Homo sapiens: one gene and its partners. The protein of the gene in region 1 interacts with the protein of each later gene in a pairwise test. Each region holds a gene or a part of one and is shown in the gene's direction. Other genes may lie near its edges.

Evidence for each region.
Region 2: the proteins of ELK3 (region 1) and BPIFA1 interact in binary tests that used the Homo sapiens proteins (3 or more experiments, as listed by UniProt).
Region 3: the proteins of ELK3 (region 1) and SP4 interact in binary tests that used the Homo sapiens proteins (3 or more experiments, as listed by UniProt).

The regions. Positions count from the first base shown.
Region 1 is NC_000012.12:96,267,295-96,270,401, forward strand, and holds the end of ELK3 (ETS domain-containing protein Elk-3), read left to right. Parts: 3' UTR 1-2,530; downstream 2,531-3,107. UniProt on the Homo sapiens protein: May be a negative regulator of transcription, but can activate transcription when coexpressed with Ras, Src or Mos. Forms a ternary complex with the serum response factor and the ETS and SRF motifs of the Fos serum response element.
Region 2 is NC_000020.11:33,238,864-33,242,620, forward strand, and holds part of BPIFA1 (BPI fold-containing family A member 1 precursor), read left to right. Parts: intron 1-939; coding exon 940-1,047; intron 1,048-1,369; coding exon 1,370-1,522; intron 1,523-2,521; coding exon 2,522-2,606; intron 2,607-3,192; coding exon 3,193-3,256; intron 3,257-3,623; coding exon 3,624-3,664; 3' UTR 3,665-3,698; exon of another isoform or gene 3,699-3,757.
Region 3 is NC_000007.14:21,507,940-21,511,696, forward strand, and holds part of SP4 (transcription factor Sp4), read left to right. Parts: intron 1-3,082; coding exon 3,083-3,330; 3' UTR 3,331-3,757. UniProt on the Homo sapiens protein: Binds to GT and GC boxes promoters elements. Probable transcriptional activator.

The DNA.
Region 1 (3,107 bases):
ACTTTTCATAACATGGATAGTCTAGATTTATGTTAGCATTTTAAAAACTGTTTTTGATATATTCAAGTATATATGAAAATCTGTTTGGCATTAAGTGAATTTTAATGTTTTTGTTTTTATATCCTTTTAGCTCTTAAGTGTTGAACACTGTTGACAGTGAAGAACTTTTCTTAATGGTTTTCAGTATAACTAATAAGGATGTGAAGCTTTTTTCTCTTTAGTTCTGAGTATGCTAAACTGTGTGCTTATATAGACTATAACCAGTTGTGCCTTCCTTCGCATTTAATGTAAATGAATGATTTATATATTTTTTAGTATTAAGAGGAAATGTTTGAAAGATGAAAATTAGTATCAAACAGCTCTCTAGTAGAATTTCATTATTTTTCACCAGTGGGCAATATGAAAGCATATATCACGTTTTGTTTTACTTTCAATTGTATAAGAATTGCCTTAGAACCTCTTTTGAACTGAAATTCAGTAAATGTCCAAGTAATGTTTTTATAATAAACTAAGCCATATTTAGACAATAAACATTGATAAAAGAAAATGTTCTAAAGTACATTTTCAAAAGAATGGACCTTGAAAGGCTAGCCTCCTTAGCTGTTTACAGTATCTTATCTTTTAGATGCCTCCCAGACAAAAATCTGAGATGGAAAAGCTACATCAAGTTCATGCTATTCCAGGCCCAAGAATATCTCCTAGGTTAGCATATTCTTATTTCAAAAAATTAGCCCTGGTTTTCTCAGTTTTCCATAGGGAATCCCGACCATCTGATATATTTACTGTGTCAGTATAAGTAAGTTGGGGTTCCCCTGGAACTATAATTAACATTTAAAAAATCTAATGCTTTAGAAGAAGCTCACAGAGTGGTGATGAACCCAAACAACAAAGAAACCATTTTTAACACTAGGTATCTTCATCAGTATAGGTAGGTGTTCACAATTTTTGATGGATCAAAAACTTGCTGTAATACAAATAGAGAGTGGAGGTACTAAAGGCCTTGCTTGTGGAAACTGAGAGAGGATACACTGCTTTATGTATTACTAAAGTTAGGGGAGAATGAAGGAAATCTGACAGATGAAAAATTCTACAGGAACCTCATCATCGTGGAACTGAACTGATGATAACTTGGAACACTCCAGTAAATTCTGTTGTGTAATGTAATTTGGAGCAGTGATAATACAGACATATTTTCTGTTCCATCAGAAAATCAGCAGGCACCAGTCCAAAGGTACCACACCTGTACATGAAGAAGGAAAGTTCTAATACAAGAAAACTGAAAAGCACCAAGCTTTAAATTCAAGATTAATTACAATCCTTAACTATAAGTGATGATAAAAACTAACTTGAAATGTGACTAAATAACTGATCCAAACTGGGCATTAAGTGGCAGGATTATGAGAAAGGATAAAAAAAGAGATTTGAGAAAACACATTTCTTGAATTTTCAGAAAAAAATCTAGACTATTGCTTTGACACTTAGAAATTCTGAGGTTTTTCAATTGGAATTGAGCATCTCTGTATGTGGGGATGTGGGCCCTTATCAAGGGATAAAAATCCAAACACTCTAACATGCCTCCTTGACTGTAAAGTAATGACACTGGTTCCAAAATTCACAAATAATAGACACTACTGTCCCCCCACCCCCACCCCATAGGCTAAGAATAATTCTGTACCAGAATAAAAGGAGCTGGTCCAGGGAACTGATATTTACTGAACATACAAAGTTAGTGCTAGAAGGGGCCTTTGAGAATGCTTCCCGCCACCTGTTTCCAGCTCAAGACAGGTGCACAGCAGAAGCTGGGAGTTGCCTATGGCTGCACAGCTCACTGAAGGTAGAACAATGATTGGTGCTCAGTCCAATTCTGTCTCCCCCATGCCTAGCTGTTAAGTAATTACTGGTTCAAAACTACGTGTTATTAGTAAAACAAACAAAACAGATAAAGACAGCATTTAAAACTGTGTTGTCAGATAAGAGAACACATCCAAAATGCATGATTCTTACAAACTAAAGGAAGTTAATGTGCAAAAATCTCAACCAAAACTACTATTTTTAGTATACTTGTTTACGTAAATGCTGATTGGAAATATTTAAATGACTATAGATCTGATTCTTTCTTTTCCTTTGGAAACTGGGATTAATGTATGCTCTAGATCCATTTATTAGAAATGCAAAAATACTACAATTTTTTGATGGATGAAAATACTCCTGTAACACAAACAGAGAACTGGAGGAACTGAAGAATAACTCACTCATATAGCTCTGCCTCATTCTGTGTGTGTGTGCATGTGTGTGTTAGCAGAGGTATTTTACTCAGAAAATAGGTTTCAAAGAACATTAATGACTTTCTTTTCCCTTTTATGTCTGCTTAATCAGTGTTAAACTGCTATGGGAAAAGTTTTATAGAACTATATAACCTGAATGTTGGTCTCTTTGTACACATCTTTTCTATGACTGCAAATCTTCACTTTATGTATCATTTTTACTGTCATATTATTTTTGTTCAATAAAAACTTTGTGATAAAAGGTGTTTAGAGGTAACTGGATTGGCTTACTTCCATTTGCTTGGGGTGACCCAAACCACTTTTCCATATGGATACAAGTTGGAAAATGAGTCTTGTCACCTACCCTTAAAGACAGCACATCCAAAAAAAAAGTGCTTTACATACACATATTTTAAGAAATAAATGTAATTATTGAGGCTGACTTGTGGGAGAATGGAATGGATTGAAAAGCAGACCCCTGATCTTATTTAAGTTCTATCAACTGCTCTGTATTGAGGAGGAGGAGGAAGTGAGAAGGTAGGGGAAAATCAAATCTACCATTTATTCTTTTAGCCATTTTGTTGATTCAGGGGAATGTGAACTGCTAGGCTTGGTGATAAAGGTTATTATTTCTCTTGGTCTCAATACCAGGCTGACCTGGCTCTGGTTTTCATGGGTGATTCAAAGCAGTCTCCACTCAGGGTTTGATATAGGGAGACTGGTGTGAGGGGAGGGGAGGGGATGCAGGGAGAAAGCAGATTAATGCAGTCCCTAAACAACACATTCAGTATCACTAGCGTGCCAAAAGGCCACAGATAACTCACAGCTACATATAGTGTAACA
Region 2 (3,757 bases), on another chromosome or scaffold:
CCAAAATCCTACCCACCCAGGGTCTCACTCCCTGACTTGGAGACAGACAGACTTCTTGACTTTGATTTTCAAATGTACTTGTTGGATGACCTGGGACAGGACACCCTGTCTCTCTGTGCTTGGTTTCTCCATCTGTAAAATATAGATTATAGAACCCACAGAGAAAGTGTATTGTGAGGACTGGAAAAGGTGTAAATCACCTGGCGCAGTGGCTGGCTCAGTGAATGGCCTCACCCATCAAATGGCCTCCCTGCTTGATGGGTGCGGTCACAGGCCTGGCTTCTCCTGGAGACAACAGGGTGTGATGATGGATGGATGGTTGGAAAGATAGGACAATGGGAGAATGGCTTCCTTCCACCCTTTCTGCACTCTCCCTGACTTCCTGCTCCTCAATTCCCATGATAAACATTGGTGATTGGCCACCTGACAGGGTGAGTGATTCTTACCCATAAATGTTTGTGCAGATTTACTTCCAGTTGCACCTGCATCATCCATTCATCCACTGACCAATCCATCATCCAGTTATCCATCCTTCTACCTAATCACTTACTCTTCCATCCATGTACCCACATATCCACTACCCACCTTCCCATCAATCCAGTCAACTAATATGAAGTAGCCACTTTCTTTGTAAGGCTCTTAGCTGGCATACAGGATGCAGATATAATCCAGACACAGTTGTTGTCCTGAATACCTCATAGACTGGAGATAAGGAAAGGGCCCTGTGTGTGTGTCAGATCTGTTCCAGGGCAGAGGCTGGAAAAGACCTAGTGTGTGACTCAGAACCCACGTGGCTTAGGCTGCAAGACTCCCCTCCCATCTCCCTATCCTGGGTGGGAAGCTCTACCTCTGGGATGGGTACTGTTAGGTTAAAGATGGTTTCTGGGTTTGGAGCTAGAGGAGCTAATGTTTCCCCCTCCAATATTACTCCCTGGACAGCATAAAGGTCACTGACCCCCAGCTGCTGGAACTTGGCCTTGTGCAGAGCCCTGATGGCCACCGTCTCTATGTCACCATCCCTCTCGGCATAAAGCTCCAAGTGAATACGTGAGTGGGTCCCAAGAGGGGGTGAGAGGATGGCTCACCGAGGGAGACCCTGGTGACCATGGTTAACCATAACGGGGGTATTGGAGTCTAACAGACCTGAGCCTCCAACTTCAGCTCATTTGCTGCTATGCTAAGTGGCCTTGGGTCACTTGGGAAACTCACTTGACCTCTTAAGTCTTTGTTTCTCCTGCTAGAAAATGAGATAAGTACAACTGTGGGCAAGATGGAGTGAGGTGAGGCTAGCATTCTTGGCAAGGAGAAAATAACCCTCTTCCTTGGAATGTGGTGGAGCTAGATACCAGTGGGGCTGTCTCCTTTGCAGGCCCCTGGTCGGTGCAAGTCTGTTGAGGCTGGCTGTGAAGCTGGACATCACTGCAGAAATCTTAGCTGTGAGAGATAAGCAGGAGAGGATCCACCTGGTCCTTGGTGACTGCACCCATTCCCCTGGAAGCCTGCAAATTTCTCTGCTTGATGGGTGAGGCCAGAGGAGCAGCTTATCCTGCCCAGAGATGACAGGGTGTGATGCCGGATGGATGATTGGAAAGCTGAGACAATGAGAGAATAGATGAGTGAGAGGCTGAAAGGGTGGGAAAATGGATGGGAAGGAGGGAGCGTGGAAAGATGGATGGATGGATGGATGGATGGATGGATGGATGGATGGATGGATGGACAGATGGTTAGATGGTTGGGTTGATGGAGAGAAGGATGAATAGATAGATGGATGGATAGATAGATGATAGATAGATAGATAGATAGATAGATAGATAGATAGATAGATAAAGTAGTACTTATTCCTTCTTAGACCAAGCTAACCAATTTTATGCTGGATCTAGCAACAAGAAATTGGAGTTTAAGCCCTGCATATTACAGGGGAATGGGGATAGAGGGCTTCCTGTGTGAACCTGGGTAGTGCTTCTCCAATTTAGTTCTAAGCTTACTTATCTGCAATATGGAACTGCACTGGAGTTATTGATAGAACCTACCAAGATAACAGGTGTGAAAGTGCTTTGTCCCAGTAAGGGGTAAAATAGACGTGGATCCTAACTAGGTTATTTATTTCAGTTACCTGTCACATGGGGAGACTGTGTCAAACCTATTACGCAAAAGTTGCCCACGTGGTTAACTTTTAATGAACACATACATTGGGCTTCACATGTGTCATCTCATTGGATCATAATGACAACTACATACTAAGTAGTATCCATTCATTTATGGACTCTGCAAAGCCTTATTGGCACCTGCTTTTTCTGAGAACCATGTGTTTATCCTACACATACCTGTGTGTTCACTGCTGTACACAAATGTAACTCCCTTTACATAAGACCCTTGCTGTTGGCCTGCACGTGGGTGTAGATAGACAAGGCTCGGCTTTAGTGACTGAGTGTTGAGACTGTGGGGTTCACAGTGGCCCCCTCTGGAGACTTCTCCACACCATCTCCAGGTCCCTGCATCACCCATGACTTTTCTCTTTCAGACTTGGCCCCCTCCCCATTCAAGGTCTTCTGGACAGCCTCACAGGGATCTTGAATAAAGTCCTGCCTGAGTTGGTTCAGGGCAACGTAAGTAGGCAAGGTGGGGATCCCCTGATCCTCAGGTTTTAGAGCTTCTTGCACTAAAACAAAGCCCTGAGCTAAGTGGGTCCGAGTCCCTCAATTTGATAAGTAACTTCCATTCATCAATCTATTTGTCCATTGATCCATCTGTCCATGTTTCTTCTTTACATCTTTCCAAATGCATTGATGAGTCTCTGCTCTAGGCCAGGCCCTGCTTGTCCACACTGAAGCTGAAATGGATTGGCCCCTGTTCTGAGAAATTGGAGAAGTTCCCTGTCCAGCCTTCTATGGCCACAGACAGTCTTTCAACCTATGCTTGGGTGTCTCCTATAACCAGGGCACTCCACTCCACTTAGAATCAGATGTGATGTCACAGGGTGAACACTGGGCTTGTTGTGTGATTTGGGGCCCTTCACAACATCCCTCATGCCTCCAGTTTCTCCTCAGGCATGTGTGACCATTGATCTGTGGGATTGCTTAGAATCACTTTCACACAGAAAAATGACAGGAAATTTCCCCAGAGAACCCCCACTAGGGATTCTGCTGCTCCAGGGTGCCACTCTGCCTAACTCTCCTCTCTGCCCCTGGCCAGGTGTGCCCTCTGGTCAATGAGGTTCTCAGAGGCTTGGACATCACCCTGGTGCATGACATTGTTAGTAAGTACCTGCTTTCAAGCCCTCTGTCCCTCTCTGCAGGAGCAGCAACTTCCCCCAAGGAGTTTTTTCCCTGCACACCCTAGGATACTAGGTCCCTCTGGCCTCAACTCTCTCTATTTTGGGCTTCATTTTCCCCCGAATAATCCAGATAATTTTGAGATAGACACCGTGTCTCCTGCCTCAGCCCTGACACTGAGGACAGCTGGGCTGGTTGGTAGAAGGAGGCCTGGCTTCCTCCAAGCATGCTGAACACAGTCGGATCTCCAGAGGCCTCCATTCCCTGGCCCCCCACCTTGAGGAATATGGACTCCTTCACGTTGAGATCATAACTGTCGTCTGTTTTTTTATTGCTTGTTTGTTTGTTTAGACATGCTGATCCACGGACTACAGTTTGTCATCAAGGTCTAAGCCTTCCAGGAAGGGGCTGGCCTCTGCTGAGCTGGTAAGTGCCCTTCCCCACACCCCAGGGTTTTGGGGGCTGGCTGTTCTTCTCCTGGTAGA
Region 3 (3,757 bases), on another chromosome or scaffold:
ATCTCAGTCACACACACTCAACCTCTGAAAATGCCCAACCACCAAGACAGTACTTACAGTCCAATTTTCCTCCCTTGGCTTCTGCACGAGGTTGCCTGGTTGCTGCAGTGCCTGCTTTTCTCCCTGTGTCGCCTCTGCTGCCTCCTGAATAACAGTCTCAGGTTTGTCTGTGGCTTCTGTGGGGAGCCAGGATGCCCGGACAGAGTGGGCCACCCAAATCGGGTGGGACACCTCTGCCCTCTCGGCTGGAGTCCCACTCCATGCAGGCACAGAGATCCCAGACAGGCCCCCAGGTTTGTGAGAAACACAGATTCACCTGTCCAAACCCAAAGAATGGACTTGGAGACACAAACAATGGAAGCGAGACTTTTAATGGTGGTCTTGCAAGATGGAGTGTCTGGTAGGCAGGCACACCCGGGGCAGTTACAGCAGGTAATTTATTTCCTAGCATCCAAATCTCACTGCAACCTCCACCCCGCCTGGTTCAAGCGATTCTCCTGCCTCAGCCTCCCAAGTAGCTGGGATTACAGGCGTGCATCACCACGCCCAGCTACTTTTTTTGTATTTTTAGTAGAGACAGGGTTTCACCATGTTGGCCAGGCTGGTCTCAAACTCCTGACCTCAGGGTCCACCCACCTCAGCCTCCTAAAGTGCTGGGATTACAGGTGTGAGCCACCGCGCCCAGCCTAAATACAGTTTGTTTGTTTTTTTAAGTAGGCCACTGCCTCCACCTTTGTACAGAGAAATCCCAGGTTCCTCCTGTCAGAACCTAGCTAGACCCTGGAATAAGATACCAAGACCAGGCTTGCCAACTGTGGCTTGGCATAGAGTTTGTGTTTGACCTGGGGTCAGGGCCTTGTCTACACACTTTTTTTTTTTTTTTTTTTTTTTGAGACAAGGCCGTGCTCTGTCATCCAGGCTAGAGTGCAGTGGCTCACTGTAGCCTCAACATTTGCATTACATGTTGATTTATATAATTAATGGATGGTGTTGCTTATTATCGATTGATTGTGAATCTGGCCACGACAAATTTATTCTAATTGTTTATTTTCTCAGATTATTTATGTAAATAGTAATAACTGTAAATAATAATCTATTTCAATTTTTTTCTTCCAGTGATTGTACCTCAGTTCATTTTACTGTCTTATATGTTGGCTTCGTCAGAATGTTTCATATTATGTTGAAAATAGTAATGATATATATAATAGCATTCTTATCTTGTTCCTGATGTATAAAGTAATAGTTCAGAAGTTTCTCCATTAATTATATGTAGGGGTATAGCAGGTAAAAGAAATAAATTTTTATTCCTGGTTTGCCAAGAGCTCTTATCAAAATGTGTTAAATTTTATCACACTGTTTTTATGCTTCTGTTGACCTTTTTTTTCTCTCCTTTAACTTTATGGAATCTTAAGTCATACAAAGTATTTTATTTTTGTGTAGTCAGATTTGTCTATTCTCTCTTTTATAGTTTCTAAATAACCTGTTGTACTTTTTAAAGTACCTTCAAACTCTAGGTTATAGAAATATTTTCCTTTTTTTTTAATACTTGGTTTTAAATCTTTGTAGCATGTATCTTGGTGTGTGGTATGACATGGAGGTGCATCTTCTTTGTGTTACTTCAGATGGATGTTTAATACAATATTGTATTGAGTGCAGTGCTCCTGTAAGTTTTAATATTTGTTTGTAACAATAATAAGGAAGACTAATGGTTTTTTCAAAGTTTACTCAAAAGTAAAAGCACACACGTAAAGAAAAAGAGAATGTAAAGAAAAAGAGAGAATATCTGACGTGGACCAACTTGAGCCTATAGATTTTTTTTATTGGTAAGTCAAAAGCAGGGCCAAGAAAAGAAATTATCCAAATTGAATTTTCTCATTATATTAGTCTGTTTTCATGCTGCTGATAAAGACATACCTAGACTGGGCAATTTACAAAAGAAAGAGGTTTAATTGGACTTACAGTTCCACATGGCTGGGGAGGCCTCACAATCATGGTGGAGGGCAAAGAGGAGCAAATCACATCTCGTGTGGATGGTGGCAGGCAAAGAGAGAATAAGGAAGACACAAAAGCAGAAATCCCTGATAAAACTATCGTATCTTGTGAGGCTTATTCTCAAGAACAGTATGGGGAACCCACCCCCATTATTCAGTTATCTCCCACTGGGTCCCTCCCACAACATGTGGGAATTATGGGAGCACAATTCAAGATGAGATTTGGATGAGGACACAGAGCCAAACCCTATCACTTATTACCCAAGTTTTATCAGACTGGGAAAACAACATTTCAGTCCCTTAAGTAACAATTTTAGAGGGAAGATCTACGGCTAACAGTTATTCATTGTGCACATCAGGATAAACCAGTTAACCAAATTTTGATATGCCTCATTTATTATACACAAAAACAAAAAGGCCTTTTTGTTTTTAGTTAACATTAAACTAGCTTTTATTCCAAAACAAAGAAGTCGGTCCAGTAAAACTATCTTATATTTTGAAGAAAACATATTTAAGAATTGCTTTGGACAACAGAAACTGTTATCTTATGAAACCTAAAAACTTTATTAAATTCTGAATGTAGCATGTGCCTGCCTCCCATTTTTGCCTTGTAAAGAACTCAGTATGCTATTAAATTATTAACTTAGTTTATTTGAAATAGTTCCAAGATATTTCATGCCTCCAAGATTAAAACTAAAACCCAGGTTAGCAGTTTTGAAGAAGAGTGGACATGAGCCTTGAACATTATATATATTTGTTACATCTGATAGAGATATTTTAAATTGTCTGCTAAAAACCCTCTTGCTTTGTAGATGGGAAAACTGAGAGTTCCAGTGGCTATTTACTTGCTCCAGCTTTTATTTCCAGTTCATAGCAGAAGCAGGACTTAAACTTCAGGTCTTTTCGTCTCAATCACATGGTCTTTCTCTTTGCATTGTGTATTTGATAACGTTTTTAAATAAAACAAAGCATTTTGCAACTAGTGAAACTGTACAAAAAGTCATATAATGTGACCAGAAGGGAGATTATTAAAAATTATAATTTCACTTAAGCAAAATGTGTATAACGCCATTTACTGTTTTTCTATGTAGGTGAAAAGAGATTTGAATGCCCGGAATGTTCTAAAAGGTTTATGCGGAGTGATCATCTCTCCAAACATGTCAAAACGCACCAGAATAAAAAAGGTGGTGGGACAGCTCTTGCCATTGTTACCTCGGGAGAACTGGACTCATCTGTTACAGAGGTGCTTGGCTCCCCAAGAATTGTCACAGTTGCAGCCATTTCTCAAGATTCGAATCCAGCAACTCCCAATGTTTCAACCAACATGGAAGAATTCTGAAAAGTTATTTATAACAGAGACCTCTAGTGCTGCACTTGTTTACACACCTTTGAAAATCTGGAAATGGGCTGGTCAAGTGGATTACAGAGTAGGAAATTATGTTTTCATTCTTGGCTTCTTTAAGTATTCCAGGGTTTGGGGTCAACACGTGAAGTGTTGAATTTTAAAAAATACAAAAAGCAGACTGATGTACTGGAAACAGAAAAGTATTTCCTCCATACTATAAGTTGTAGTTGTTTGGAAATATATCACATAACCTTTATACAGAATCTTCCCATCTCTTAATATCATGTGTTAACATGTTTAAAAAGACCTTAGTAGTTTGCAGGCTGGACCTTAATTGGACTTATTTTCTTTGAAAGTACTTTGTTATAAATTCAGTCAGTAATAATTTACGTGTATTCTTTTTCTCTATAGCACAGAAAAC